4 linked regions of the Homo sapiens genome follow. The protein of the gene in region 2 interacts with the protein of the main gene of each other region in a biochemical or structural test. Each region holds a gene or a part of one and is shown on either strand. Other genes may lie near its edges. The genes, in order: CTSB, CSTA, CTSH and CTSL.

What was found.
Region 1: the proteins of CSTA (region 2) and CTSB form a complex in vitro, tested with the Homo sapiens proteins (3 studies listed by BioGRID and IntAct, with this or other methods).
Region 3: the proteins of CSTA (region 2) and CTSH are reported together in a solved structure, tested with the Homo sapiens proteins (one study listed by BioGRID).
Region 4: the proteins of CSTA (region 2) and CTSL form a complex in vitro, tested with the Homo sapiens proteins (2 studies listed by BioGRID).

The regions. Positions count from the first base shown.
Region 1 is NC_000008.11:11,865,088-11,872,622, reverse strand, and holds the start of CTSB (cathepsin B isoform 1 preproprotein), read left to right. Parts: upstream 1-4,535; 5' UTR 4,536-4,622; exon of another isoform or gene 4,623-5,369; intron 5,370-7,535. UniProt on the Homo sapiens protein: Thiol protease which is believed to participate in intracellular degradation and turnover of proteins. Cleaves matrix extracellular phosphoglycoprotein MEPE. Involved in the solubilization of cross-linked TG/thyroglobulin in the thyroid follicle lumen.
Region 2 is NC_000003.12:122,321,222-122,328,256, reverse strand, and holds the start of CSTA (cystatin-A), read right to left. Parts: upstream 3,010-7,035; 5' UTR 2,965-3,009; coding exon 2,899-2,964; intron 1-2,898. UniProt on the Homo sapiens protein: This is an intracellular thiol proteinase inhibitor. Has an important role in desmosome-mediated cell-cell adhesion in the lower levels of the epidermis.
Region 3 is NC_000015.10:78,942,034-78,948,870, reverse strand, and holds the start of CTSH (pro-cathepsin H isoform a preproprotein), read left to right. Parts: upstream 1-3,824; 5' UTR 3,825-3,889; coding exon 3,890-3,980; exon of another isoform or gene 3,981-4,093; intron 4,094-6,837. UniProt on the Homo sapiens protein: Important for the overall degradation of proteins in lysosomes.
Region 4 is NC_000009.12:87,721,550-87,729,136, reverse strand, and holds the start of CTSL (procathepsin L isoform 1 preproprotein), read right to left. Parts: upstream 3,019-7,587; 5' UTR 2,739-3,018; intron 1,777-2,738; exon of another isoform or gene 1,669-1,776; intron 1,544-1,668; 5' UTR 1,534-1,543; coding exon 1,408-1,533; intron 1,111-1,407; coding exon 988-1,110; intron 888-987; coding exon 741-887; intron 553-740; coding exon 328-552; intron 1-327. UniProt on the Homo sapiens protein: Thiol protease important for the overall degradation of proteins in lysosomes. Plays a critical for normal cellular functions such as general protein turnover, antigen processing and bone remodeling.

The sequences.
Region 1 (7,535 bases), on a different chromosome or scaffold from region 2:
CATCTGCTGAGACCCTGGCTGCAGACATGGCTTCCCTTCCGAGGGAGTTCATGTGAAAGTCGAGGCCCCCACCGGTATTAGAGGAGCAGCCATCTCTTTTGCTCGCAGTTAAACAAGTGCTCTCGCAGTAGGATAAGCCACAAAGGAGACACTGTAGGAGAATAAAGAGGAATCCTTCTGGAAGCCAATAGAAAAAAAAAAAAAACAATGTGGTCAGCCCTCATAAGGCTAGAACCAGAAACTTAGTTCTCTGAAGCCAAGGCACTGTAATTTCCCTCCCTCTGATGACAGTCACACCACAGAAAGGGAGCTGTCGGGAGGAAGAAGAAGGAGCCCAGAGGCACGGCTCATACCTCCCTGCTGGAAGGAGGGGTAAAGGGCACGAAAGTCCTTTGAGAAGAGAGGAAGGAGAAATAGAAATGAATAAGACAGCACCCTACACCAACCAACTTAGAGTTTAGATAGGAATGGAGACATATTTCTGAAAATACTGGAAACAATCACAGCCAAATAAGAAATCCAGTTCATTTCAACACTGAATAGTTGGGCACTGTAGCGTATTCAAGGATAATTTTTAAAAATTAAAAAGTTAAATCAGGCTGGGCGAGGTGGCTCACACCTGTAATCCTAGCACTTTGAGAGGCGGAGACAGCAGGATCATTTGAGCTCAAGAGCTTGAGATCAGCCTGGGCAACATGGGAAAACACCGTCTCTACAAAAAATACAAAATTAGGCTGGGCCCTGTGGCTCACGCCTGTAATCCCAGCACTTTGGGGGGCCGAGGCAGGTGGATCACGAGGTCAGGAGTTCGAGACCAGCCTGGCCAACATGGTGAAACCCTGTCTCTACTAAAAATACAAAAATTAGGGGAGTGTGGTGGCGGGTGCCTGTAACCCCAGCTACTCAGGAGGCTGAGGCAGAATTGCTTGAACTCGGGAGGCGGAGGTTGCAGTGAGGCGATATCGCACCACTGCACTCCAGCCTGGGCGACAGAGCGAGACTCTGTCTCGGCAAAAAAAAAAAATTCATATTAGCCCCCAGAGAAACCCCACACCCTTTAGCTGTCACCTACCTAACCTCCCATGTGGATTTCACGGAATCATACAATACTGAGTCCTTTGGACCTGGCTGATTTTACTTAGTAAACGTTTTCAAGGTTTATCGATGTTGTAGCATGTGTGACTACTTCATTCCTTTTTACGACTGAATAAAACTCCATTTGGTGGATTTATGACAGTTTGTTTATTCGTGCAATGGTTTTTAATGGATGGACATTTGAGTTGTTTTCACCTTTTGGTTACTGTAAATAATGCTGCTATAAACATCTGGTGTAAGTTTATACATACGTTATTAACTTTTGTTTTAGAGTTGGGGTCTCACTATGTTCCCCAGGCTGGTCTTGAACTCCTAGGCTTAAGTAATCCACCCACCTCTGCCTCCCAAAGTGCTGGGATTACAGGCGTGAGCCCACTGTGCCCGGCGGATTTTTGTGAGGACGTATGTTTTCACCTCTTTCAGGTGTTAACTTAGGCCTCTTTTACGGATGTTCAACAAGCAAACAGCTTTTACACACGTGAGTCAAGGCCTCTCTGTAAGTTCTGAGAGCTGTTCCCCAGGCCCTGAACCCTGACCCCCAAATCTAGCAGGTTAAGCCAAAATTCTCCTCAACTTCAAGGCCTACTTCATTCATTATGCATCCACTCAACTCACATTTCTCTATCCTCTGCTATGGGCCAGACACCCTGCAATGAGCTGGGATGAAGCAGGGGAACACCGCAGGTAAAAATGCTTGCCTGGGTGGGGCTTAAGATCCAGTGAGGGCAGGAAGGAACATATACAAGTAAATATGCTGTATGTTCCTTTCTCCATGAAGCTTTCCTGGATGTTCCAGGAAGGGACGAATTCTACTCTGGTAGTAATATATTTCTTTTCTTGTCTTTTGAGGAGTCTTGCCCATGTTGGAGTGCAATGGCGTGATCTCGGCTCACTACAACCTCTGACTCCCTGGTTCAAGGGATCCTCCTGCCTCAGCGCTCGAGTAGCTGGGATTACAGGCCCGCAATGCCACACCCAGCTAATTTTTGTATTTTTAGTAGAGACGGGGTTTCACCATGTTGGCCAGGCTGGTCTTGAACTTCCAACGTCGTGATCCGCCTGCCTTGGCCTCCCAAAGTGCTGGGATTACAGGCGTGAGCCACTGCGCCTGGCCTATTTCTTTTTTTCTTTTCTTTTCTTTTGAGATGGAATCTTGCCCGGGTTGGAGTGCAATGGCGTGATTTTGGCTCACCGCAACCTCCACCTCCCGGGCTCAAGCGATTCTCCTGCCTCAGCCTCTCAAGTAGCTGGGATTACAGGCGCGTGAACCACCACGCCCAGCTAATTTTTGTATTTTTAGTAGAGACTGGGTTTCACCATTTGGGCCAGGCTGGTCTGGAACTCCCGACCTCAGGTGATCTGCCTGCCTCAGCCTCCCAAAGTGCTAGGATTACAGTGGTGAACCACCGCGCCTAGCCTGTTTCTTTTGTTTCAAAAGTGATTTTTACCTCTCAAAAGTGATTTCTATAATGACACTGATGGAAAATTCCATCAAATAGCCATAACGCATGTCAAGCACTCTGCTCTGCATACCTTCTGTCACACTCTAAGGATGAGAGAGGGGAGAGTTATCCTGGTTCTGGCTGTGTCCTCCCCATTTTGGCCATCTTATGAGCTCCTTATAGAGGTCTGAAATGATTTGGAGTCCAGAGTCCATGGCTGTCAGGATATGACTAGGGTGAGCAGGCAGTTGGGACCACCTTGACCTCCAGCCTCCTGGTCCTCAGTTCCTCGGGTATCCCACTCTGCTGGGGGCTTAGTGACCATGTTTGGGCTCCAGAGATTATTTTTTCCTTCCACTCCTATCCTTAGTTTGTTACTAACCAGGCGGGAGTACAGGCATGTCTCTGAAGACAGGCTCAGGGCTGTGTGACAGCTGACGACCAGGCTGCAGGGAACCAGGTCCCATGCAGTCCTACTGCCTTTTTTTTTTTTTTTTTTTTTTTTTTTGAGGCGGAGTCTCGCTTTTCGCCCAGGCTGGAGTGCAGTGGCACGATCTCAGCTCACGGGTTCACGCCATTCTCCTGCCTCCGCCTCCCGAGTAGCTGGGACTACAGGCGCCCGCCACCACGCCCGGCTAATTTTTTGTATTTTTACTAGAGACGGGGTTTCACCGTGTTAGCCAGGATAATCTTGATCTCCTGACCTCGTGATCCGCCCGCCTCGGCCTCCCAAAGTGCTGGGATTACAGGCGTGAGCCACTGCACCCGGCTACTGCCTTCTTACTGTCGCCACAGCCTGGATAAAATACGATTCTTCTGAGCCTTTTTTTTTTTTTTAATACAGAGTTTCACTCTTGTTGCCTAGGCTGGAGTGCAATAGTGCGATCTCTGGTCACCGCAACCTCCGCCTCCCGGGTTCAAGCGATTCTCCTGCTTCAGTCTCCCGAGTAGCTGGGATTACTGACACGCGCCACCACGCCCGGCTAGTTTTGTATTTTTAGTAGAGACGGGGTTTCTCCATGTTGGTCAGGATGGTCTCGAACTCCCGACCTCAGGTGACTCACCGGCCTCGGCCTCCCAAAATGCTGGGATTACAGGCGTGAGCCACCGAACCCAGCCCCTCTGAGCCTCTTGAATACAACTGGGGTCATGCCTGCTTTGCAGGTTTGTCTTAAGGATTAAAGCTGTTTGGGGAGTGTCTGGAGGAGGGTGAGTCTTGAGCCAACCCCTGCATCTCCCTTCCAGGGCCTCCCGGTAATAAACCCCAAGTAAATGTGCACTTTGTCCGTCCTCTCGGAGCAGGTCTCCGGGTACTCCTGTGCCAAACCGATTTCCGCCCCCAAGGTCCTTCTCCTCTTAGAAATCCTGACGCAGCTCCTAGGTTCCTTCGCAGTGACAGCCACTCTTTTCTATTTGTACGTAGCTGTAGTGTTTTGTGGGTACGTTCTCTGAACAACAAAGTGGCCCTTCTAAAGGCTGTTCTGTGGGGTCCACAGCCTCGCCACCCCCAGCCTCTGCAGCGGCTTCTGAATGAATGAAATAAGCGACGGCGCCCTCTCCACCACCCCACCCCCGCCAACTCGGCAGGCAGGGATCCCAGGCGCGGGTTCTGGCGGAGGCGGTCCCGCGAGGCGGGGGGACTTTTCTAGGCGGGGTGGGGGCCTTGGGACCACCTTTAGGGGCTTTTTCCCCATCCCCTGGCCCCAATTCGCAGCGTTTCGCCACCCAGGGCCCGCAGGGCTCCAAGCCCTTCTTCCCCAGCCCGCGCGCTCAGGCCCCCGCCCGCCCCCGGCGGTGGCCCCGGACCCCGAGCGGAAGGGGGCGGGGGGTGTGCGGGGCCGGGAAGCGGGGAGCGCGGGCGGCGGAAGGTGGCGGGAGGGGGTGGGGGCTGGGAAGCACCGTGCGCGGGCGGCGGGAGGGCCCGGGCGGGGCTGCGCGGTGGTCACGTGGGGCGGGGCCGGGAGGGTACTTAGGGCCGGGGCTGGCCCAGGCTACGGCGGCTGCAGGGCTCCGGCAACCGCTCCGGCAACGCCAACCGCTCCGCTGCGCGCAGGCTGGGCTGCAGGCTCTCGGCTGCAGCGCTGGGTGAGTGCTGGGGACCCGGGGCCACCGCAGCGTAAGTGACCTTGGCGGGGACGGTGCTACCCGGCCGCCGAGACGGGTTCCTCTGCGCCCTCAGTCGGGCCCAGGCGCGGCCCCGCGGCGTCCCTGGGGGCCGGCGGGGAGCCGGGACCCTCGGGACTGTCCCTGACGGGCGGGCTGGGGTGGGAGTCCGCGCGCTCCGAAGCGTCGGCGAGAAAAGCAGAAAACAGCTCCGCCCGCCAGCCCTCTGCCCTCCGCTCCCCTCCCCGGGCTGTGCGCCGGACCCCGGCCCTCGGAGCGGGGACGCGGCCAGGACCGCCGAGGGAGGCGCCTGCGAGGAAGAGCTCGGCCGGGTCCGGAGACTGCTGCCTGGGACCGCGCTCCCAGCGCCTGGGCCTCGGTGTCTCCGGGCCAAACTGCCGACATAATCGCATCTGCCGGCATCTATTTTCGGTTTATTTCCCCCTCATTGCGAAGGATTTGCCTGGCCAACTTTCTGCGCAAGATCCCACGCAATTCCTGGGACCCCAGAAGACAGGTCCTGTTGAAGAACAGGAATCTGGCACTGGGTGGGCTGGGGAGGAAGCCGCACGGTGTTAAATCCATAAACAGGAAGAGAAACCAGACAGCGAAACCAAGAGGCGAATGGGCGATTGGATGCCGGTGGGGAGAAGGCCGGGGGCGCACCCTGCTCCTGGACTCCAGTAAAGGGAGGCCGGGCAGAGTCCCTGGGGCGCCACCTCCCCCTCGGTTAGTAGCCCTGGAGGCCGGGGGGAGTTGGCCTCTGGGGAGCAGTGGGTGCTGGGTGTGGGGCGTTGCAGGCAGGCTGGGGTGGGCGACCCAGGTGGAAGTGAATTGCACTTGGCTTCCTGGTGGGCCTCTGTCACCCCCTTCCCAGGCGCTGAGAAAGCCAGCAGGCTGGCAAAGAAAAGGACCCTAGCGCAGGCCCCACACTCCTCCTCCTAACGGACGAGAGACCCCCCAAACCCACTGGAGAAGTGACGCTGTGGGGTTCAAATGCAGACCTGGCACCTTTTTGTAGCCTGGAAAAACATTCCCACTGCCTGCTGCCGGAGGAGAGGATAGCTGAGATGCACTCTCTTTGAATCCAAACGTTCAGGAACGTAAGGCGAAGAGGCCTAAGAGGGCGTTGGCTGGCTCTGTCTCTCAGGCTGGAGCACAGTGGCGCGATCTCGGCTCACTACAACTTCCGCCTCCCAAATTCAAGCTATTCTCCTGCCTCAGCCTCCCGAGTAGCTGGGATTACAGGTGCCCGCCACCACGCCCAGCTAATTTTTGTATTTTTAGTAGAGATGGGGTTTCACCATGTTGACCAGGCAGATCTTGACCTCCTGACCTCAGGTGATCCGCCTGTCTCGGCCTCCCGGTGAGTCACGGTGCCTGGCCAAGAACTGTTTCTTGTTGGCTCTGGTGCTGGTGACTTAGAACCCGCCAGCTCCTGGAGAAAGGGGCTGGGCCGCCCACCCTGTGTAGCTTTCCCAAAGACAGAGTCAAACGTCTCCTGGAGAACAGAGGCTTCCCTTCGTCTTTGGTCATTTGTCCTCTAGCTGGGGGTACCCCCTGGTGGAAAGGCACAGGTCCCTTGCTCCCCAGGTGGCAACGCAGGCCAGACACGGCCCTGGCACAGCTCTCCTGGGTGTTGGCTCAGGACAGCCCTGTTTCCAACTGGTTAGGCGGTGAGGGGTGGTGGCCCTTTGGTTCCAGGTTGAAACTGCCCATGTGGTGCTGATTTAGCAGACTGGGGAGGCTCTTTTTGTAGGCAGGTTCTTTTCTTTCCCCAGCTGCTGGACCTGGGAGTTGGAAGAGAAGTTGCACCCATTTTAGGGGTAACAGATATTTTCTGTTGCTCTTGGTTGGATTGGGAAGTGAATTGAAGGGAGGTCACGTTTCAGGGGTGCCTTGGGATGTCTGTCAGTGATTTTCTTTTCTTTCTTAATTTCTTTTTCTTTCTTTTTTTTTTTTTTTTGAGACACACTCCCTCTATCGCTCAGGCTGGAGTGCAGTGGTGCGATCTCGGTTCACTGCCACCTCCGCCTCTCATGTTGAAGCAATTCTCCTGTCTCAGCCTCCCTCCCAAGTAGCTGGGATTGCCAGTGCCCATCACCACACCTGGCTTTTTTTTTTTTTTTTGTATTTTTAGTAGAGACGGGCTTTCACCATGTTAGCCAGGCTGGTTTTCGAACTCCTGATCTCAAGTGATCCGCCTCAGCCTCCCAAAGTGGTAGGATTACAGGCATGAGCCACCGCGCGGTGGAGGGGTAATTTTCTTAAATCTGGTAATGAGTTGTGGTTGTGTAGAGTAACATACCGTCCTTTCGAGATATGGACTGAAACATTGAGAGGGAGGAGTTACAGGTATGTCGATTCTTCTTTTCTCTCTCTCCTTTTTTTTTTTGAGGTGGAGTCTGACTCTCTCACCCAGGCTGGAGTGCAGTGGCAAGATCTCAGCTCACTGCAACTCCGCTTCCTGTGTTCAAGCCATTCTCCTGCCTCAGTCTCTCAACTAGCTGCGATTACAGGCATGTGCCTCCACACTCAGCTAATTTTTTTATTTTTAGTAGAGATTTTTTGTCTCTCCTAAAAAAATCCAATGTAAAAAAATCCCAATGTGGGGGTTTTGCCACGTTGGCCAGGCTGGTCTCGAACTCCTGACCTCGTGATCCGCCCACCTCGGCCTCCCAAAGCGCTGGGATTACAGGTATGAGCCACTGCGCCCAGTCTGCTGCCTCTTTTCAATGGTCTGGCCTAAGGAAATTATTGGAAACATGTGCGGTTGAGTGATATTTACTGGGCACTTCCACATGGTCCATGTAAAGGGAGATGGTTGGGGTGACAGGCAGTTGAGTCTAGGGGAGGCATGTACAGATGTGCTGTGCCTCTGGGATATCAGGGTGG
Region 2 (7,035 bases):
AGTGCTGGGATTACAGGCTTGAGCCACCATGCCCAGTTTAATTAAGTGACTCTTAATCTCTTTGAATCTTGGTTTCATCATCTGCAAGATAGACACAATATCTTCCCTGCCTGCTCCAGGGGTTATGAAGATGAAATCAGAGCTCGAATGGAGGTCAAGCTTTTAAAAACTGCAAAACCCCTTTCTGGGGTGAGGTAGCTGTTCTTAATACTTATCTCTCATTCTACCTCTCTGATGACATTGGAGCCAAAGGGAAGCAGCTTCCTCCCTGCCACACACACACTTTCAAATTAATTTTATAATTTAAGATGGGGCTCACAGATAGGTGTTATTAGCAATGCAAGGCCTTCTGGTAGCTTCTTATTTTAAAAATTAATAATTCTTGCTAATCGAGTGATAGATTTTTTTAAAAATCATTAAAATTTTCTGTACTGTCTCTATTTCAAATTTATTTTTCCCTATGTTCCTACAGCTCTGTTCCTTAGAGAGTCTCAGGGGGATTTTTTTAGGGTCAGGGATGCTTTCAGCCACAAATTTGAAGTAAACAATTGTGATACCTCACCTATGCACATTTCTTTTTCATTTTCAAGTCATTTTTATGCACATTATCTCACTTAGTCCTTACAGCTCTGACATAGGTAGGGCAAGAGGTGTTACCTTCATTTTTCAAATGAAATAGACAAATTTTATTTTGGCACCCTGACTTTTTTTTTTTTTTTTTTTTTTTTGAGACGGAGTCTCACTCTGTTGCCCAGGCTGGAGTGCAGTGGTGCAATCTCGGCTCACTGCAAACTCCACCTCCCGGGTTCACGCCATTCTCCTGCCTCAGCCTCCCGAGTAGCTGGGACTACAGGCGCCCGCCACCACGCCAAGCTGATTTTTGTATTTTTTAGTAGAGACGGGGTTTCACTGTGTTAGCCAGGATGGTCTTGATCTCCTGACCTCGTGATCCACCCGCCTCGGCCTCCCAAAGTGCTGGGATTACAGGTGTGAGCCACTGCGCCTGGCCCTTTTTTTTTTTGAGACAGAGTCTTGCTCTGTTGCCCAGACTGGGGTGCAGGCACTATCTTGGCTCACTGCACCTTCTGCATCCTGGGCTCAAGTAATTCTCCTGCCTCAGCCTCCTGAGTAGTTGGGATTACAGGCACCCACCACCATGCTCGGCTAATTTTTGTATTTTTAGTAGAGATGGGGTTTCACCATGTTGGCCAGGCTGGTCTCGAACTGCTGACCTTGTGATCCACCTGCCTCAGCCTCCCAAAGTGCTGGGATTACAGGCATGAGCCACTGAGCCCAGCCTGCACCCTGACTTTTAAAGCCCCATCTCCCACTGGCCTTGTAGGATGCCATATATCTCTGGTCCTGCCAGCAAGCAAGGCCATGGGTGGCAGCAGCAGCAGCACTTGGGAGTCTGGTAGAAATGCAGAATCTCAGACCTACCCCAGGTCCCCTGAATCAGAATCTAAGGTTTATCAAGACGTGCAGGTGATTCATGTGCACATTCAAGTTTGAGAACATTGATCTGATCTGGGGATTCACATGAAGACATTACTGACTTAATATCATCTCCCAGGAAAAAAGCTCCAAGATATTTATTTAAAAAAAGAACTCTTGAAAGAGAAATAATTAGTCCCCAAGAATGAGTGATGGGATTCTAGGCATCTGGCCCCTTAGAGAGCTTTCTAGTTCCCAGAATATACAGGATCCCAACTCTTATAATCACACAAAAAGCTGATCTTGTTTTCCAAGCTGTCATAGAATGATGTTTCAGAGAGAAAAAATAAGAAGGAATAATATAAGAAAATAAGGCAACAAACTAAAAACCTAAAGTAGTAATTTGTACATGTTTTCCTTTCATAAAATATGCAAATAAATGTTTACTACATAGCTAGATGATAGCTAATCACACAAAGAAAAATATATCAGGGATGGGTGTGGTGGCTCACGCCTGTAATCCCAATACTTTGGGAAGCCTAGGTGAGTGGATGGCTTGAGCCCAGGAATTCAAGACCAGTCTAGCAACAGAATGAAATGCCATCTCTAAAAACAAAACAAAACAAAACCCCCCAAATCAGCCAGGCGTGGTGGCATATGTCTGTAATCCCAGCTACTCAGGAGGCTGAGTGGGGAGGATCGCTTGAACTCAAAAAGTTGAGGCTACAGTGAGCCGTGATCAGACCATTGCACTCCAGCCTGGGTGACAGAGTGAGACCCCATCTCTTAAAAATGAAACAAAACAAAACAAAAAAGAAGAAGTGAAAAACACATCAATCTGCTAACAACATTGAGTTCTATTTTTCCATATATAATTTGGTGCCCTATGACATTTCGGAGTCACTATAGACTGTCACCTCTGTTCTATTAGTTGAATTACCTTTTAACTATGAAAAGACTAAAACACTATCTATTTGGGCAAAAGTGTATGAAGTTTGTAAGTAGATTGCCTTTACAATATTATTCTTCATTCAATCTATTTAAAAAAATTTTCCCTGCAGTGCATTCCAAGACTACTTCATCAAATTGTTAATAACCTTAGACTTCAATTACACGTTGGCTTCACTTGGTGAGATTAGAAAAGTTTCATCAGAAACTGAATTAGTAATTCTAGAATCATATCTTGTAAGAGCTTTAGAGAAGATACAATACAAATTCTTTTACCCATGGAGAAAATGAAGCTCAGAGAAGAAATGTGATTTGCTCAAGGTCACACTCACAGTTTGGGGATTATTTGAGGCTTCATCTGAAAAACTCTTATTTCATCTTAGTTGTAAAGAAACCTGAACAAAGCCACAAACATCCTAAACTTCTGGTTTTCATGTTCAACCACAGCCTTTCCACAGGGACAACTTATGAATCAAGATTTTGGCTCAGACTTTTTCCTGAATGGCATCAACTCACCTTATCAACAATCTCCTGGATTTCTGGAGTGGCGGGTTTGGCCTCAGATAAGCCTCCAGGTATCATTTTGGCTGATTGCTTCTTTGCTGGACAGGATGCTGGAACCAAAGTGAACAGGGAAGTGTGGAGACTCGTGTTTTAAAAGAGGCGTTCACTAGCTCCGCCTATAGAATGCTTTATTTTCCACAAACAGCAAAGAGGCATGGGGAAAATGAGTATGCCGCCAGGCAAGTCTTCTTGCTTCCTGGAGAGAATATGCTACATGGAATTTGGAAGAAAGAGGGGTTGGAGGATGAACAAATGGGCAAGTACAGGAGTCATGTCCTAACAAGCATCAAACGTCCCTGCATTCTCTTTGACAATGGTTCCATCCTGTTGCATCATCTGAATTATGAAATCTGAAGCCGCAACTAGAATTTCCAAATGTTTTAAAACTTCTAACACAAAATTTTATTTTTTTTAAAGCAAAACTTACTAATAATGTCAAGGTTAGTTTAGAATTTACTTGACTTTAGAAAGAAAGCAAAAGGATCTATCTGGAGGACCTTGGCTGGATGTGTCTTCTTTACTCTTATTTAAATATCTGGAAATGTTTAACATACGGTAAAACACAAAGAATAAAATAACAAACATCTATATTTCTATCACTCAGAATTAAAACTTTTAACCCTTTTGTCATATTTGCTTGCTGTTTTTTATTTTTGTAGTTATTTTTAGGAAATAAAATATTACAGATATGGAGGAAGCCCCACACCCCACGCAACCTTGCCTTCCAGAAGGCAAAGTACATGGTGAATTAATATCCTTCCAGGCCATTTTTATATGTGTGTCTTTAAAATTAAAATATGTCTTACTTGGTGTGTCTTTAAAATTTCACTTAAATTGTATGCTAAATATATTCTATGTTATGTTCCTTTTTCTATTCAACATGTTTTTGAGCCTTTCTATGTTGATATACACATAGATCAATCCACAGATAGATCAATCCTGTTCATTTCCTTTAACTGTGATATGCTATTTTATGCTAGACCTATCTATTTAGTCTACCTATCTAATTGCTATATTCTAGTTCATATTTTACATACTCATTTCTCTATTGATGACGATTTTCGTTGTTTCTGGTGTTTCATTCTTACAAACAACGTTGCATTTTTTCTCCTTTTTACATGAGTGAGGGCTTCTGCAGACAACTTATCTAGAAGCAAAATGGCCACATTGTGTGAATATTTATGTATATTATTTTATTCAATTTTGGGAATATATAATACATACACAGGATAAAAATGTTTGGAAGGAACCAGGCTTTACAATATAAGGAATTATTCACTCACTTAATTCCTCAGACACCCTTCTACTCTCCAGAGACAATTATTGGCACCAACTTCTTCTGTATCCTTCAGAGACATTCTTTACACATACAAATATAAAAATAATTGGAGGCTGGGCACGGTGACTCACGCCTGTGATCCCAGCACTTTGGGAAGCCGAGGTGGGTGGATCACAAGGTCAAGAGATTGAGACCATCCTGGCCAACATGGTGAAACCCCATCTCTACTAAAAATACAAAAATTAGCTGGGCGTGGTTGCGTGCGCCTGTAGTCCCAGCTGCTCAGGAGGCTGAGGCAGGACAATCGCTTGAACCTGGGAGGCAGAGGTTGCAGTGAGCCAAGATCGCGCCACTGCACTCCAGCCTGGTGACAGAGCAATACTGTGTCTCAAAAAAAAAAAAAAAAAAAAAATTGGCTACACACACACGCACACACACACATAGATACATATTCATCTATATAGGTTTTCTTTTATAAAAATGGTATCCTACATAAATTATTATACTTTTTGTTTTATTCCTAACAATATATTTTGGAGACTGTTCTATATCACAATACAGGGAGGTGCTTGTTTCTTTATAATGATGTTTGGTGGGTGCTTGGCAAACTCTTGGAGCTAAGTGAGTGTCTTACAGGCTAAACTAAGGGGTGCTACACAAGTATCTCTCCATAGAATGCCTTTACCCTGTGGATTAAGAAGAACAGCGAATGTGGATGACAAGGTGCTCCCTCAAGAGGCCACAGGTCATCTGAAGACTTTGGCTCAGCTTTCATAGGCCACTGGTTCTACTCATCTTCATGTGACCTCCCCAAGTCAAGTCCTTTCATATTAAGGCCCCTGACGTTTTTCCAAGCCTGAAGCCCATTTTTAGTTGTCTGCTGACATCCTAGTCCAGGCCATCCTTATTGAATCTCCCCAGTGGTAAGAGATATGGTAAACCACAAGTCTACCCTTCTCTTTCTAGGGTCTATGCCCTGTACTTTCAGCTTTTTCCTATTGATTCTCAATAATTTATTTTAGAAGTAAAAACTTCCCCAAAGCAAATATTGCTTTTGTGTTTTGTATTCCTCCTATAACAATCCTAGTTCTTCTCAAGAGTAGTATGTGTGCCTCTGATTGACAGGGAAAGAGTCGCACACAAGGAAGTGCAAAAGAGAAAAGCACAATTCATATCTCTGTATTAATTGTTTACTTAAGTTAAACAAACAGTTGATTAAATACACATTTATTTTAAAGGTACCTTTAAGATTGCTTTTTGGATTTTTTGGTATGAATTATGCAGACTGTGTTTCTGGAGCTAGATATCCTCATATATTTCATATTTCTTGTCTGTGAGCTCATCTGCCACAGGAGTTATCTTTTATGTGAGTTTTCTCTTTTGTGGCTGGTTTGTGGGGCTTTCCTATGGGGTGGTTTCCGCTACCAGGTCCTAGGAGGTACACAAGCCCCAGCCCAGTTCTTACTTTACTGTTGGCTTAGAGCTCTTGCACCATAAAGATACTGAGAATTTGGGCTTGTCTCCAGCTTTAGTTACAGGCCTGGGCTCTGAACTTCCCCAGCTAATTGCGCTTCTACCCATTGCCAGGAGTAGATGTGTGGATGCATACACTTACCATGCAACCCACCGTTCCTACTGCTAGCTATTTCCCCAGGAGAAATGAAATATGTCTGCACAAAGACTGGCATATGAATGCTAACAGCTGCATTATTCATAATGATTCAAAACCGAAGAAAACTCCTTGTCCATCAACTGGTGAATGGTAAGAATAGTTGTGGTAGAGTCACAGTATAGAATACTACTTAACAATAAAAAGGAACAAAATAGTAATACATTAAATCACATAGGTAAACCTCAAAAACAAGACAATGTAAGAAGAAGTGAAAGAAAGCAAACACAGGAGGCCATGGACTATATTATTCCATTTAGATGAGACCTTAGAAGAGGCAAAATTATAGTGACAAAAAGGAGATCAGAGGTTGCTTGAGGCTGAGGTGAGGGATGGAATGCACTGTAAAGGGGCGCAAGAAAACGTCTTAGGGAGATGGAATTGTTCTATACATGGATTGCGATAGTGGCTACACAACAGTATATGATTACCAAACTTCATCAGATTGTGCACTTAAAGTGGGTGGTCTTGTTTCCACACCAAAAAAATAAAAAAATAAAAAAGTGGGTGGACTTTATCATATGTAAGTTACACCCCCAAAAAGCTAGAATATAAAAGCACTGCCTTTTGAATGCCTTCTTTGTGTGTCTCTTGGTCTCGCTGTTATACTTCTTCCTCTAATGTTTTTCATTAGAGTCTTAACTCCTACTGCACCAATACAGTGCTTTAAAAATGACTGTGAAGGCCCTATTTGAAGTGTGTGTTCAAGGGAGGACATAGTTATTCCTCCTGGCTATCCTTGTGGTGAAGAGGGAAAGTGGGGGGCAGGGTTGACTGAGGACAGGTCATGAAAAACAGGTGAACGATCTTACACTTTAGTTGTTAGGTAATGGAGGTCACTGAAAAGTCAGAGCTATAGAGAAGCCATTTGTGCTTTAGGAAGATAAAACTGGAGGCAATGTGTAGACTGGTATATTAGGAAAACACGAACTAACTCCCTCTCTTCTACTAAACCCTCAACACTCAACATGCTCTGGCCATCATAGTGCATGGAAGCTGAATCCCTGTACCCGCATTGTTGTCTGGCTTCCTGGCTTGAGAAAAGCAGAGTTTCTGTTCCATGTTGAGGAGGGGAGAGACAGTGCAGCCAGCGGGATGGCAGGAGAGCAGCCCATACTCCATGGCGAGACCCCTGCTGCGA
Region 3 (6,837 bases), on a different chromosome or scaffold from region 2:
GATAGGCCTGTTCTTTGCCCTTGGCCTCTCAGCCCCCATATGCACCAGACCTTCAGACCAATGAGGCACCTGCCAGTTTGGGTGTTTCATCTGGTGTATTGGTTTCTTCCTATTGTTGTGTTCTAATTACCACAAACTTAGAGGCTTATAATAGCACAAATGTACTCTACGGAAGTTCTGTAAGTCAGAAGTCCATGTGGACTTGGTTGGTTCCCTGGAGGGTCTGGGGGAGAATCTGCTTCCAAGCTCATTCAGAGGGCTGGCAGAATGCAGTTCCATGCTGGTGAAGGGCTGAGGTCCTGGTTTCCTTGCTGGCTGTCACTACGGCCAGCTTCTATAGGTTGCCTGTGTACCTTGGCTTTGGCCCTCTTCAAAGCCAGCAGTGGCAGATAGAGTCCTTCTCATGATTCAGCGCTCTCTGACCCCACCTGCCTCATCCCCCCTCTGACTTCTCCAACCTCTCCTTCTGCCCCCTCTCTCCGACTCTTCTCCTATGCTCTTCTGCTTCTAAAGGCCCACATGATTCCACAGGGCCCCTCGGATAACCCAGGATAATCCTATTTAAAGTCAGCTGATTCAAACGTTGATTCCATCCGCAAAGTCCTCCATGGCAGTCGCTAGATTGTGCTTGAGTGAATAGGAAGCTTTCGAGTTCTGCCTACCAGCCCTGTCCAGCCAAGACTGTGCCAGCAGCTGCAGTCCTCAGCCTCATTTCTGTAGAGGTGTAGAGGACTGGAACCACGGAGAAGCCCTCCAGCCAGCTGGAGCCAGAGGGTCAGACAAACTCACCATGAAAAGTGTGTGCAGGTAGCAAAGGATAAAAAGCACACAACGGAGCATCAGAAAAGCCCATGCATGGGGGGAGTCTCTATTCTGGTGCCATGCTCAGGGCCAGGTATTTTACCTATAATTATATTTAAACTGCATGACCGTATCTAACTACCCTGGAAAGCAGGGATACTTGCTCCATTTTACAGATGAGGAAACTGAGGCTGGTGGGGGGGAGGCGGGGGGGAACCATTTGCTTAGGTCACACAGTGAATCTGTAGTAGGGCTAGAACCAAACATTGGTCTCCAATTAACCAGGTCAGTGCCCTCCACATCTCAGCACCCAGGGGCCCTGGCCTGCTGGAACGATCCACAAAGGAGGGTCACCAGGGACCTAGCGCAGGAGGCAGCTCTGGGGCCTGAGGTCTAGCATGCAGAGCTTTCAATTCTGACATCCTCCAAGTGGCTGGGATGGGCAGAGGGGTGAAGCATTCCAGGTACACATGAAGGGCAGGACATCTGCCTAGAAGGACACCTTTATCCCAAGGCCAGCGACTTCTGTTCCAAATAGTAACCGAGCAGGGTCTTTTCTGAGACATATGCCTCAAAGCACAGAGAGACTGGTCACACCCAGAGAGGGGCATCCAGACAGAGATGGAGTCACAACCTAAGGAAGATCTGCTTTATCTGAAAAAAGGTGCCTGCTGGAGCTCACCCTGGTTCCATGGAGATTCCATGTCCACATGCCACACTGGCCACAGGAGAGGAGAGAGACTGTGGGGGAGGCTCTTTAAATGCAGATTTCTGAGCCCTACCCAGACCCAGTAGGTCATATCCCAGGAAAGAAGTCCAGGAATCTGCTTCCCCAGGTGCCTGAGACACAGAGTCTGGGCTAGAACATCAGGGGATGAAACACCAGTCGGAGGGAGGCCACGAGAGAGCTCAGATCTGGCTCTACTCACAGGTTGGAAAGATGCATTTTTAAAAAGAGAGGGAAGGGCACAGAGGCTCACATCTCTAATCCTAGCACTCTGGGAGGCTGAGGCAGGAGGATCACTTGAGCCCAGGAGTTTGAGACCCCATCTCTACTAAAAATACAAAAAAACTAGCTGGGCGTGATGGTACGAGCCTGTGGTCCCAGCTACTCAAAAGGCTGATGTGGGAGGATCTCCTGAGCCTGGGAGGCCAAGGCTGCAGTGAACTGTGATGATGCCACTGAACTCCAACCTGGGTGGCAAGAGAGCCAGGCCCTGTCTCAAAATAAATAAATAAAAATTTAAAAATGAAGAGACAGAGAAAGAGCAAGCCCAGAGCAGAGAGCACTGCAGTAGGTCAAGGCTGGGTTCAGACACTCTCTGCGCACAGACTGGGAAAGTTACCATCTACTCTTGTGGCCTCAGTTTCCTCATCTGTAAAATGGGGGGTCAACAACATGCCACTTTGCAAGGTGATGATGTAAGTGAAGAACAGGGCATCACTGGGCATTTGAGGCTACGGCACAGGCTGGTCTGAATCACCCTCTCCTCACCCAAAGCAGTGACAGCACCGGCCTCCTCAGCCTGGAACGCACGTTCTTCTGTCTGTCTCACACCCAGACCCTTACATACCATCTTCTTTAGCTTTGCAAACTACAGAGAATGGCCCTACAGCTCTTAATGTAGCTTCCTCAGCAGAAAGACTAAAATGTCTGTTGAGGGGGCAAAACAATTCACAAGGAGGTCGTCTAGCTTCTTCAGTTGTAAGTCCACTCCAAGCAAAAGGGAAGCCAGGGAAATGTGGTTAACCAGGGCAGGGAGACGTGGGGAGTGTGGGGGAAAGTCTGAGGTGGAGACACACAGGGACATGGGGGGTATGAGGTGGGGACAGGCAGGGAGATGGGGGTGCAAGGTGGAGACACGCAGGGACATGAGGGGGTGTGAGGTGGGGACAGGCAGGAAGATGGGAGGTGCAAGGCGGGGACAGGCAGGGACATAGGGGTGTGAGGTGGGGAAATGCAGGAAGATGGGGGGATGTGAGGTGGGGACTGGCAGGGATATGGGGGTGTGAGGTGGGGACAGGCAGAGACATGGGGGTGTGAGGTGGGGACAGGCAGGGACATAGGGGTATGGTGGGGATAGGCAGGGAGATGGGGGGTGCGAGGTGGGGACAGGAAGGGACATAAGGCTGTGAGGTGGAGACAGGCAGGGACATGGGGGGTGTGAGGTGGGGACAGGCAGGGAGATGGGGGGTGCGAGGTGGGGACAAGCAGGGACATGGGGAGTGCGAGGTGGGGACAGGCAGGGACGTGGGGCGTGCGAGGTGGGGACAGGCAGGGACATAAGGGTGTGAGGTGGAGACAGGCAGGGACATGGGGAGTCTGAGGTGGGGACAGGCAGGGAGATGGGGGGTGTGAGTTGGGGACAGGCAGGGAGATGGGGGGGTGCGAGGTGGGGATAAGCAGGGACATGGGGGTGCGAGGTGGGGACAGGCAGGGACATGGGGGTGGGAGGTGGGGACAGGCAGGGACATAGGGGGTGGGAGGTGGGCACATTCAGGGAGATGGGGGTGTGAGGTGGAGACAGGCAGGGACATAGGGGGAGCGAGGTGGGGACAGGCAGGGAGATGGAGGGTGCAAGGTGAAGACAGGCAGGGACATGGTGTGAGGTGGGGACAGGAAGGGACATGAGGGGTGCGAGTTGGGGATAGGCAGGGAGATGGGGGGGTGCGAGGTGGGGACACGCAGGGAGATGGGGGACGTGGGGATGGCGACAGGCTGGGAGAGGGAGAGGCCAGGCTGAGACCTCCCCGCGCGGTGCCAGCCAGTCCAGGCAGATCCAGGACTCAGCCAGGCCTGATACCCAGATAAGCCCTTCCTCCCAGAGGAGATAAGGGAGCGACGCGGCCGGCCGACAGGTGAACTAGAGCTGGCGAGTTAGTCGGCGCCGCCCCCTCCCGCGAGCCCGGCCTCGGGGGAGTACCGCCCACCCCGCCCCGCGCTCGCTCCGCCCCGCGCTCGCTCCGCCCCTTCGCGCTCCCGCCGCTCCTCCACGCTCGTGCCGCTCCCCCCCCGCGCTCCCAGTTGACGCTCTGGGCCGCCACCTCCGCGGACCCTGAGCGCAAGAGCCAAGCCGCCAGCGCTGCGATGTGGGCCACGCTGCCGCTGCTCTGCGCCGGGGCCTGGCTCCTGGGAGTCCCCGTCTGCGGTGCCGCCGAACTGTGCGTGAACTCCTTAGGTACGCAGAGGGCGCGCCGCCCGAGAGGGTGCTAGCAGGCCCTAGAGTGGACGCTGGGAGAACTTGGCCAGGGGCGCACTGGGCTCCGGAGGAACGGGGCAGAGCTTTCCCCGGTGAGAGGCCAGGAACTCTGCGTGCTGGCACGGGGAGGGGTAAACTGCATTATAGGCGGGGGTTCTCGGAGGGTGGGCGGCTTGTAGGACCAGAGGAGCAGATGGGCTGAGTGTCCAGGGTCCCACCTAGCCAGGTGGCTCTCCAGCCTAGAATACCAAAGGAGCCCGCAGCTCCTTCCGCCTTCCTCAACTGGGGACACAGAGTGTCACACAGAGGACTCTGATCTGTCCCTGCCAGAGGTGAGCAAGGACGTCCCAGCCTTCTCTAGCAGCTTCCCCCGGGACTTGGCACACAGGGGATCCCCGTAGTGTCTTGGGAGTCCCATCTGTAGAGTAGGTTGGACGGGCTGTTTGGAACAGTGAATCCCTGTGCAACGGCACCAGGGAAAGCACTCAGACCAACAGCGCTTTTAACAGCACCCCAGGGCCCATGGCGTCAGGTGGAGCCCCAGGACTCCTCTTGTTGGCCAGATTGGCTGCGACTGGTCCAGCTTCGTGCTGCCCTTGCATCCTGTCTACTGCCCGGGCTCAGGCACCTCCCCTGGCTGAAGGCAAGGAGCCTGCTCTTCCCTACTGCCTCCCTCCTTTCCTACTGTCCCTGGTCCCAGCCTCAGCCCACAGGCTCTGAACTTAAAGACCACCTGCCCCCTTCACCGAGAAAAGTAGCCAAGAAACAACCCAAGGAGCCAAGAACCTAGGGAGGGGGGGTGCCCTGAGCTCTGGAGGAACGGGACAGGGCTTTCCCCCAGCTAGAGGCTCAGGGGATGGGACAGAGATCACTGAGGCTGAATCTGGGCCAGAGGGTTGCCTCATTCCTTCCCACCTATTTATTTAAAAAGCTCCCCAGCCTTGCAAACCTCAGTGGGCGCCCAGCTCCAGGTCAGTTCCCGCCTAAGGAAAACCTAGCTGCCGCAAGCGAGGGCTGCCTGGAGAAGGCTGGCGCTGAGAGGCTGTCTGAATTCCAGAGCAGGGCTTGGCAAACTTTTTCTGTGAAAGACCAGACGGTAAATAACTTAGGCTTTATGGTGGTCTCTGTAGCAACTACTAACTCTGCCATGGTAGTGTGATAGCAACCATAGATTGTATGTAAGTGAGTCAGTGTAACTGGGTTCTAATAAATGATTTTTATGGCCACTGAAATTTCAGTTTCAAGGGATTTTTGGGTGCTACGAAATATGTTTCTTCTAACCATTTAAAATTGTAAGAAACCGTTTGTAGCCCAGGAGCTGTACTAAAACAGGAGTCAGGGACCGGCTGCGGTGGCTCACACCTGTAATCTCAGCAATTTGGGAGACCGAGGCAGTCGGATCACTTTAGGTCAGGAGTTCGAGAGCAGCCTGGCCAACATGGTGAAACCCTGTCTCTACTAAAAATACAAAAATTAGCTGGGTGTGGTAGCCAGGTGCCTGTAATCCCAGGTACTCAGGAGGCTGGGGCAGGAGAATCGCTTGAAACTGAGAGGTGGCGATCACTCCAGCCTGGGTGACAGAGTAAGACTCCATCTAAAACAAACAAACAAACAAACAGGGGAATACTGTACTTTCCTGAAACCTGCTGTAAATCCAGGCAAGGTATTATGGCACTTTTAAAGTCCTGACTAGATTGGAATGGATCTATTTTAGGGTAAGGCACGGTTCACCAGCAGATTATTCTGGCCCCAGAATAATCTCTCCAGAGGCAAACTGGTAGTCAATTGTCCTAAACTCAAACCCTGCCTCCAACTCTTGTCCTGAGTTGAGGTCTGTCTTCCTCTAAAGCCCTCAGCTGCAGCAGGGCCCTTAATCAAGATCTGGAATCCCCTGAAACCCTAAAGGGAGCCATGTTGAGGAAATGTGCATTTTCCCCAGGGAAAACGGCCATAGATTGGTCTCTGGAACAGGTTCGAGACCCAAAAACGGAGATCTAAATGCTGTGTGGTAGTGATCTTCACACTGGAGGTATGGATCCTTGGGGAAACAGGAAGATATTTCAAGTGATGCCGGCAGAGAGTGTTCTGGAAATCCATTTACAGACCTTTTATTTCCAAGTGTCCTCTTTGCTAAAACTGGGAGAGAGCCCCTGAAGGCAAGGGGGAACCTCTTTCCTCTCATTCAATCTGAACCTGAACCCATGGGTATAAAAACAATAGGGACAGCAAACAAAAAGACAAAACGGTAATAAATCGTTCATATCTGGCATTCTCAATTCCTCAAGGAAACTGAATTGAAGAGGAGAGGACTTCATGGGGATATCAACTGATGAGGTCTTAAAAATAATGTTGAGTGAGGCCAGGCGTGGGGGCTCACGCCTGTGATCCCAGCACTTTGGTAGGCCAAGGTGGGTGGATCACCTGAGGTCAGAAGTTTCAGACCAGATTGGCTAACATGGTGAAACCCCATCTCTACTAAAAATATAAAAATTAGCCGGGCGTGGTGGTGGGCACCTGTAATCCCAGCTACTTGGGAGGCTGAGATAGAATTGCTTGAACCAGGGAGGTGGAGGTTGCAGTGAGCTGATATCGTGCCACTGCCCTCCAGCCTGGGCAACAGAGCCAGCCTCCTTCTCAAAAAAAAAAAAAAAAAAGAAGGAAAGAAAGGGAGGGAGGGAGGGCTGAGTGATAGAGCACCATGGGATTGGATGCACAGAAAGGAGTGCGAAGAATTAAGTGGCATTGCTCTTAAAAACTGCCTCCATTCCCAGCTGCTTATTTGAGCAGGGTTTCCCAGCCCTTTGACCTATAAGAAACAAAAATAAGACCAGAATTA
Region 4 (7,587 bases), on a different chromosome or scaffold from region 2:
CTGGAGAGTGCATTTGCACAACCACCTCCCACACTCAAGCAATCGCCCTACCTCAGCATAGCTGGGACCACAGACGCACACCACCACAGCCGGCTAATTTTCGTTGTATTTTTGATAGAGTCAAGGTTTCACCTTGTTGCCCAGGCTGGTCTCAAACTCCTGAGCTTAAGCCATCTGCCTGGCTCAGCCTCCTAAAGGGCTGGGATTACAGGCGTGAGCCACCCCACCCAGCCCTAATATATGAATTCCGAAAAAGGTATCTGTTATCTCTTAAAGTGTCCACCTTCCAAAAGCTGAGCTGGAATGATGACAAGGAGCTCCACTTACTGTTGCCTCATATGGATAGGATTCCTCAGAGTCCAGGCCTCCATTATCCTGAACATACTGGAAAGCATAATCCATTAGGCCACCATTGCAGCCTTCATTGCCTTGAGGCCCAGAGCAGTCTACCAGATTCTGCTCACTCAGTGAGATAAGCCTCCCAGTTTTCCGGAACATCTGTCCTTCAAGAGCACCAGTAGCACTAAAAGCCCAACAAGAACCACACTGACCCTGAAAAGGGAATTAAAAAAAGCTGTCATCCACAAAAAAAAAATAATAAGACTTTGACAACAGCTCACACATCTGAATACTGTTAAAAAGTGAACTGTACATCACTTTAAAGTCTACCAAAACAAAGATGTCAATCACTTCTTGGCTTTCCTGGGAAGATGGGAGGTCTGAACCTGACACTGTCTCACCTGATTCTTCACAGGAGTCACGTAGCCTTTCTCTCTCCAATCCACAGATCTGGGGGCCTCATAAAACAGAGGTTCCTGGAACACTTTCCCCTTCCTGGGCTTACGGTTTTGAAAGCCATTCATCACCTGCCTGAATTCTTCACTGGTCTTCAAGGAAAAGGAAATAAAATGTTGAAAAGCAAGAGATTACCTTAGTAAAGAACCGAAGAGAGGAAGCACAGAGCTCGGCAGTCCACAGCACACTTACCATGTCTCCAAAGGCGTTCATGGCCATTGTGAAGCTGTGTTTCCCTTCCCTGTATTCCTGATTGTGCAGTTCAATCATCTTCATGTTCTTCTCCCACACTGCTCTCCTCCATCCTTCTTCATTCTAGAGGCAAACATGTAACTGATGCTCTTTACTTCTACCTAAAACCCAACTCATCCTCACCAAGTGAATCTGCAGACAGAGATGGAAGAGAAACCATGGCAAGGGAAGGCTTGACACCTCTGGGGATGCTGTTCTCCAAACTGAGACACAACAAGGATGAATGTCCACATTGTGCTCATAATCCACGCCATTAGGTTATTACATTAGGCTATTGGTAAAAGCTGGCCTCTAGAAGCTACTCTCTGACTAAAACTTCTCAACAGCCAGGACTATTCTTTCTGGGGAAGTTTCACTAACCATGCCGTATAATCTGTTGTGCATCGCCTTCCACTTGGTCCACTGTGCCTCTAAACTGTGATCAAATGTTAGAGTAGCTGAGGCAATTCCCAGGCAAAAGGCAGCAAGGATGAGTGTAGGATTCATGTTTTAAAACCTAGGAAGGGAACAAAAATGAGGATCTGATTAGACCAATCCTAAAAAGCCATCTTACTGCCCCCTGAAAAATTAGGGCCACCATGGTAGAATAAAAATATTTAAATTATTCTCCCAAGCATTTACCCAAGGACTGTGGAAGAGGCCAAGGATGTGCCTGGAGAAAAACAGGGCACGTGGAGGTACTGGATGGACTCACCAAAATGAAAAGCAGCCTGTCCAGAGCTGTAGGAGCTGAAACAGTTTATGCGATGACAATTTAGGTTATGAGAACGGTATGAAACTACCTTGTGTGTGAGAAGCTTAAGGCAACAACTAGGAAACCGGGAAACGGTTGATCCAGGTTTTGTACCAATCGCAAAAAATCCAGGTTTCGTGCCCAGGCAAAACCTCACTAATGATAAGGTGGGATTCCCAAGTAGGGACAAAGAGATCCCCAAGAGTTAGGAGGCCTTCACACATCTTCCTGACTAACAAACACCAAAAGCTGAGATAAGTTTTCCAATCTCTCCTATTTATTTATTTATTTATTTATTTATTTATTTATTTATTTTTTGAGATGGAGTCTTGCTCTGTGGCCCAGGCTGGAGTTCAACGGCGCGATATCGGCTCACAGCAACCTCTGCCTCCCGGGTTCAAGCCATTCTTCCTCAGCCTCTTGAATAGCTGGAACTACAGGCGTGCGCCGCCTCGCCCGTCTAATTTTGTATTTTCAGTAGAGACGGGGTTTCACCATGTTGGCCAGGCTGGTCTCGAACTACTGACCTCAGGTGATCCGCCCACCTCAGCCTCCCAAAGTGCTGGGATTACAGGAGTGAGCCACCGCGCCGCCCCAACCTCTCCTTAAATGAAACCTTTCTGAAATGCTTTCCCAGGAAAAACTGGGAAGGAGAGCACGCACTGCTCCCTCCTTCATTCACTTGGGCCTGTGCTGCCGACACCCCAAACTGCTCCCCTAAATCAGGGACGGGGTCATATGGCCGCACGCGGGAAGCCAGCGCCCTGCAGCCAGCTTCCAGGGCTCCAGGCGTGGCAGGGCCGGGGACATGACGCCTGCGCCACACACTGGCTGTAGCGGTCAGAGGATGTTTGCGGTGACGCCAGCAGGAGTACCGCTGTCTGGCGTGCGGGGACTGAGCTTCCCTGTCTGGCCGGGCCAGGCCCTGAGTCGGCGCGGCGCGGCCTGGCTGCGGTACCTGTGTCCACCCGGCTCGGAGGCTGGCCTGCCCGCTCAACCAGTCACGCGCCTCCGCGGGGTCCTCAACTGCCCTCCCCGGCTTCCCCACCTCAAGGCCAGCAGAGTTCGGGGTAGACGCTCTCGTTGCCAGGGCTGGTGCACACCTACTCGACCGCGTCCTCTCTTCCAGTCCCTGTCCGGCCACAGCTGGGCCTGGCCGGCGGCGCTTTCCTGCTGCGGTCGTAGCTGCGCAGGCGCACTCCACGGATGCCGCTCAAGGTTGCGGAGGTCGCGGTTCTGGCCCAGCTTCGCCTGACTCTGCTTCTAAAACCTCGGGTCTGGGTTCGGCCGGCACCGCCCCGCCGCCTGGCTGCGCTGCGATTGGCTGTGCCGGCAGCTGGGCGGGGACTCTGGGTGCTCTGATCCCTGGCGCGGTTCGTGGCTTGTTTACTGACTGTCCCAGAGCTGGGCGTGCCTGCCTCAGTGGACCTGGAGGAAGCAGAGCTGGTGCCCCGGGGCGGCGCAGAGTAGGGTCGGGCGTCTCCCTGGAGCGCTCGAGTCAACTAAGTACACGACTTACTGCACTGGGCGAGTGGCTCCTGAAAAGACGTTTACCGCAAGCCCTGTGTGGACTGTTTCAGCCTAACCTTGCTATTCCTTAGTCCTGGAATTTTTGGTCCGCAGAGCCGAGAGTCAAGTGTACTCTAGTCCAGTGGCTCCTGTTTAGTCCACAGCAAACGTGGGGCCGGGTGGACGAACGCAGAGCCCGCGGGCAGAAGCCTTATCTCCCACTTAAGGGTGGGTGCAGCTGGGCTTTAGAAGAATCTGGTAAGGAAAGGCATCCCCAAAACACGAGATGCTATCGTCAAGACCAGACCCTAGGAGGGAGGAGACTGGCTGCGTCTCCAGAGAGCGCGGGCGTTTTGTCAAGCATCCTTTCCAGACTCCTCCATTCAGGGATTCTTCCTTCTCCCACGTCTTACCCAAAACCAACAGAAATGAGTTATTTACAGAAACATTTGGTTGACAGGAGAAAAGCAGTTGAGAACATTAGAAGCTGCTTTTATTCGCCCACTCTCTAGGCTATGGATTATATCTTCCTTGGTAACCAAGTCGTTCTCTTGAGATTTAAGAAATTTAATGACATTTAATGTCAGGATTTAAGATACAGAGAATGGAGAAATGTTGTAGATAGAGGAAAAATATGTATCTTAATCTGTATAATGTAGATATTAATTTATGTAATTAAGGATTTAAGGAACAAAACCCACAAACATTCTAAACTTTTGTCATTTCATTTTTTATTACATAAAAACATTCATTGTAGAAAATACCTTTCGGGGAAAAAAATAATTACCTCTGCCTTTACCCCATAACCTTTTCGTATGCATATTTTGACTTTGTTAAAAATGAACAAAGTCCATTGATTTCTATTGAAGATTAAACTGATAACTCTTTTAGAAGCACAATCACCTATAGTTTTTTAAGTGGTAAAATATACCTCACATAGCAAGTACCATTTTAACCAACTTTGAGTTCAGTAGCATTAAGTACCTTCACATTGTGTAACCATTACTACTGTTTATTCCCAGAGCTTGTTTATCTTCCTAAACTGAAACTGTATCCATTGAATAATAGTTCCCCATTCCCCCTCTCCTAGCTCAGGTATCTACCATTATATTTCCTGTCTGCAGGAATTTGTTTACTATTTTGGAGATTATTCCTCTTTTTTTTTTTTTGAGACGGAGTCTGGCTCTGTTGTTCAGGCTGGAGTGCAGTGGCGCAATCGCAGCTCACTGCAATGTCTGCCTCCTGGGTTCAAGTGATTCCTCTGCCTCAGCCTCCAGAGGAGCTGGGACTACAGGCGCGCACCACCACGCCTGGCTAATTTTTGTATTTTTAGTAGAGATGGGGTTTCACCATATTGACCAGACTGGTCTTGAACTCCTGACCTCGTGATTCGCCTGCCTTGGCCTCCCAGAGTGCTGGAATTACAGGTGTGAGCCACCGTGCCCGGCCGATTATTCCTCTTTTTATGCATTGCTTCTCTGGAGAACCAGTCACAATGTGTAGAATACAATCTAACTGTGATATCTGTCCTAGTCTCTTTTCTGTTGCTAATAACAGAATACCTGGAACTGTGTAATTTATGAGAACAACATTTATTTCTTACAGTTTTCGAGGCTGGGAAGTCTGAGGTCCAGGAAGTGTATCTTGTGAGGGCCTTCTTGCTTGTGGGGATTCTTTGCAGAGGCCCAAGGTGGTGTAGGGCATCACAGGGCGAGAGGGCTGAGTGTCCTAGCTCAGGTCTCTTCCTCTTCTTTTAAAGCCATCAGTCCTGCCTGGGCGCAGTGGCCCACACCTGTAATCCCAGCACTTTGGGAGGCCGAGGCAGTCAGATCACTTGAGGTCAGGAGTTTGAGACCAGCTTGGCCAACAGGGTGAAATCCTGTCTCTACTAAAATACAAAAATTAGCCAGGCGTGGTGGTGCACACCTGTAATCCCAGGTACTTGGGAGGCTGAGGCGGGAGAATCACTTGAACCTGGGAGGTGGAGGTTGCAATGAGCCGAGCCGAGATCACGCCACTGCACTCCAACCTGGGTGACAGAGCGAGACTCCATCTCAAAAAAAAAAAAAAAAAAAAAAAAAGCCATCAGTCCCATTCCCAAGATAACCTGTTGGTCTATGAACCCATTATTCCATGAATAGATTAATGTATTCATTAGGGAAGAGCTCATATGTCCTAATCACCTCTTAAAGGCCCCACATTTTAATGCTGCCACATTGGAGATAAGTTCCAACAAGAGTTTTGGAGGGGGCAAACAAGGAAACCATAGCAGTATTTAAATTTATTATTTTATGAAATAAAAACAATATTTCTGTGGTGTTAGGTAACTGGAGTACCTACGTCTGCCTTGGTTCTAACTTTGCAGATTTCAGGATCACAAGAAGTTCATTGGAACAGCTGAATGTTTCTACCGGGGGCTTAGAGCTCACTTGGTCCTTCATGAGTTCCTTACTGGGGAGTGTGAGAGAAACTGCTCAGATGGCCTCCCCTTCCCCAAATTTGAAAGAGAAAGAGAGAGAGTTGTGAGTGAGTGGCTTTGCTCTCCAGCACTTGCTTAGTGAAGAGCCTCAGAATCTGGACTGTGGCCTCCCAGTTCTGAGGAACCCCATTCGCCACCAGGAGGGGTGGCATGTTCACCCCGTTATTCAGGAAGGAATTGGAAAACAAACAATCGAGGGTGTGAGGTCAAGAGCTAGAAAATCGCAAGCCTCTGGCACCTGAGCCAGGGCAGATGCTGGGAGCACCTGCAGGATACTCCCATATTCTGCCACCTTGGTACTTATCAGCCTCTGAGAACTGAAGCCGGACCCTTTCTTTGCTTGAGCAGAAGATCAGACCAAAGAGCTCATTGACTCAAGGAGCATCATGGCAACTGGGCTGTACCCGGAGGGGAAGAATCCAGGGTCTGATCCACAACCAAGGCCTGAAGAAGTGGGGCCTGTACTTGACCTACCCAGGGTGAGTCATGACCCAAGTGCTGGGGCTCTAGCCATGGGTGGTCCTTCCAACCATTTCCAGCTTCCTCCTGCAGAGGGGCTGGTGTTTTTCTTCATTTTCCATAACCTCCTTGGGAGCACAGGCTTTGGTTTCTGCCTTCCCTGGATCAGGTCTCCCACAATGCAGTTGCTCTAACAAAAACTATTAGCAACAACATAGTACCACAGAAGCCAGCTCCTTGCTAGCAGTGATTGCTGATGATATTGTCTTCTAGAGACCATTCTAATGACTAGACAGCCTCGGTGCAGGAGGAGCTGTTGTCGGTCATGAGGAGCATTTCCTTGTCTATGTAGAGGAACTGAAACCGATGTGGCCAGCAAAATTTACCCAAAGCAATCACTGGGATACTCATCACACCCTCATGGCCCATTGTATCACTTTTGTTCCCTATATATGTGGTCCCATTTCCTCAGGACCAGTACTCCCTTATGTGGGGAGCAGGACTGATGCCTTGAGTTACTTATAGTGACTCGTTAGTTGGGGGATTTGCTAGTATTTTCATCAAACTTGAATCTAGTGAAACATTTGATTGAACTGGCTTCCAAATTGAAAATAAACCAACACCACTCAGGAAACCTATTTACAGCGAGAAGTCAGGAGTGGGAATGCATCTTGCACTGTCACCTTGATTAACAATAGCTCTGACCTGTGGGAGGACGGTCCTCTCTCCTGTAACAAACATAGGGTAGTGATGGGCCAGGTCCTGCTGCTCCTACATTCTCATCACTTAGATAAGCACAGGCAGGTGACTGCAAGCCTTCCAGCCTCCACCAGCATCCTCCAGTTCTCCCCTGACCGCTCTCATTCATATTCCGCACTGATTCAGAGGTCCAGTCCTGAGTGGCAAAAAGAAACATGCGTGAGCCTTTCTAGAAATCAATCAATCATTCATGGATTATAGTGAATTCTTCCCTACTAAACACATCTCCAGAAATTCAGGCGTAGTAACTCCCTTCCTGAATGTCTTTCCAAGGCCCTAAGTGACATTGATGTTCCATAGACAATGTCTTACACGGCAAAGTGCTTCTGGGGGTGGGAACCTGCTGACCTTCCCTGGAATCCTGACTGCAGGTTCTGTTTAGAACATGGGGTCTCATTTTGAGAAGCTCTTGGTATTTATCATTCACGGGAAGTTCACAGGTTCCAGAAAACACTGGACAGCATTCAGGGGAAAGAAAAGGGGCAGAGATGGAGACACCTGGTCAGTTTGGCCAGAGCATCCTGGGGGAAATGCACTGAGGGACAGAGGGGCAAATGCACATGGGTGGTGGGGAGAGGAGCAACGCAGATAGCAAAGACAC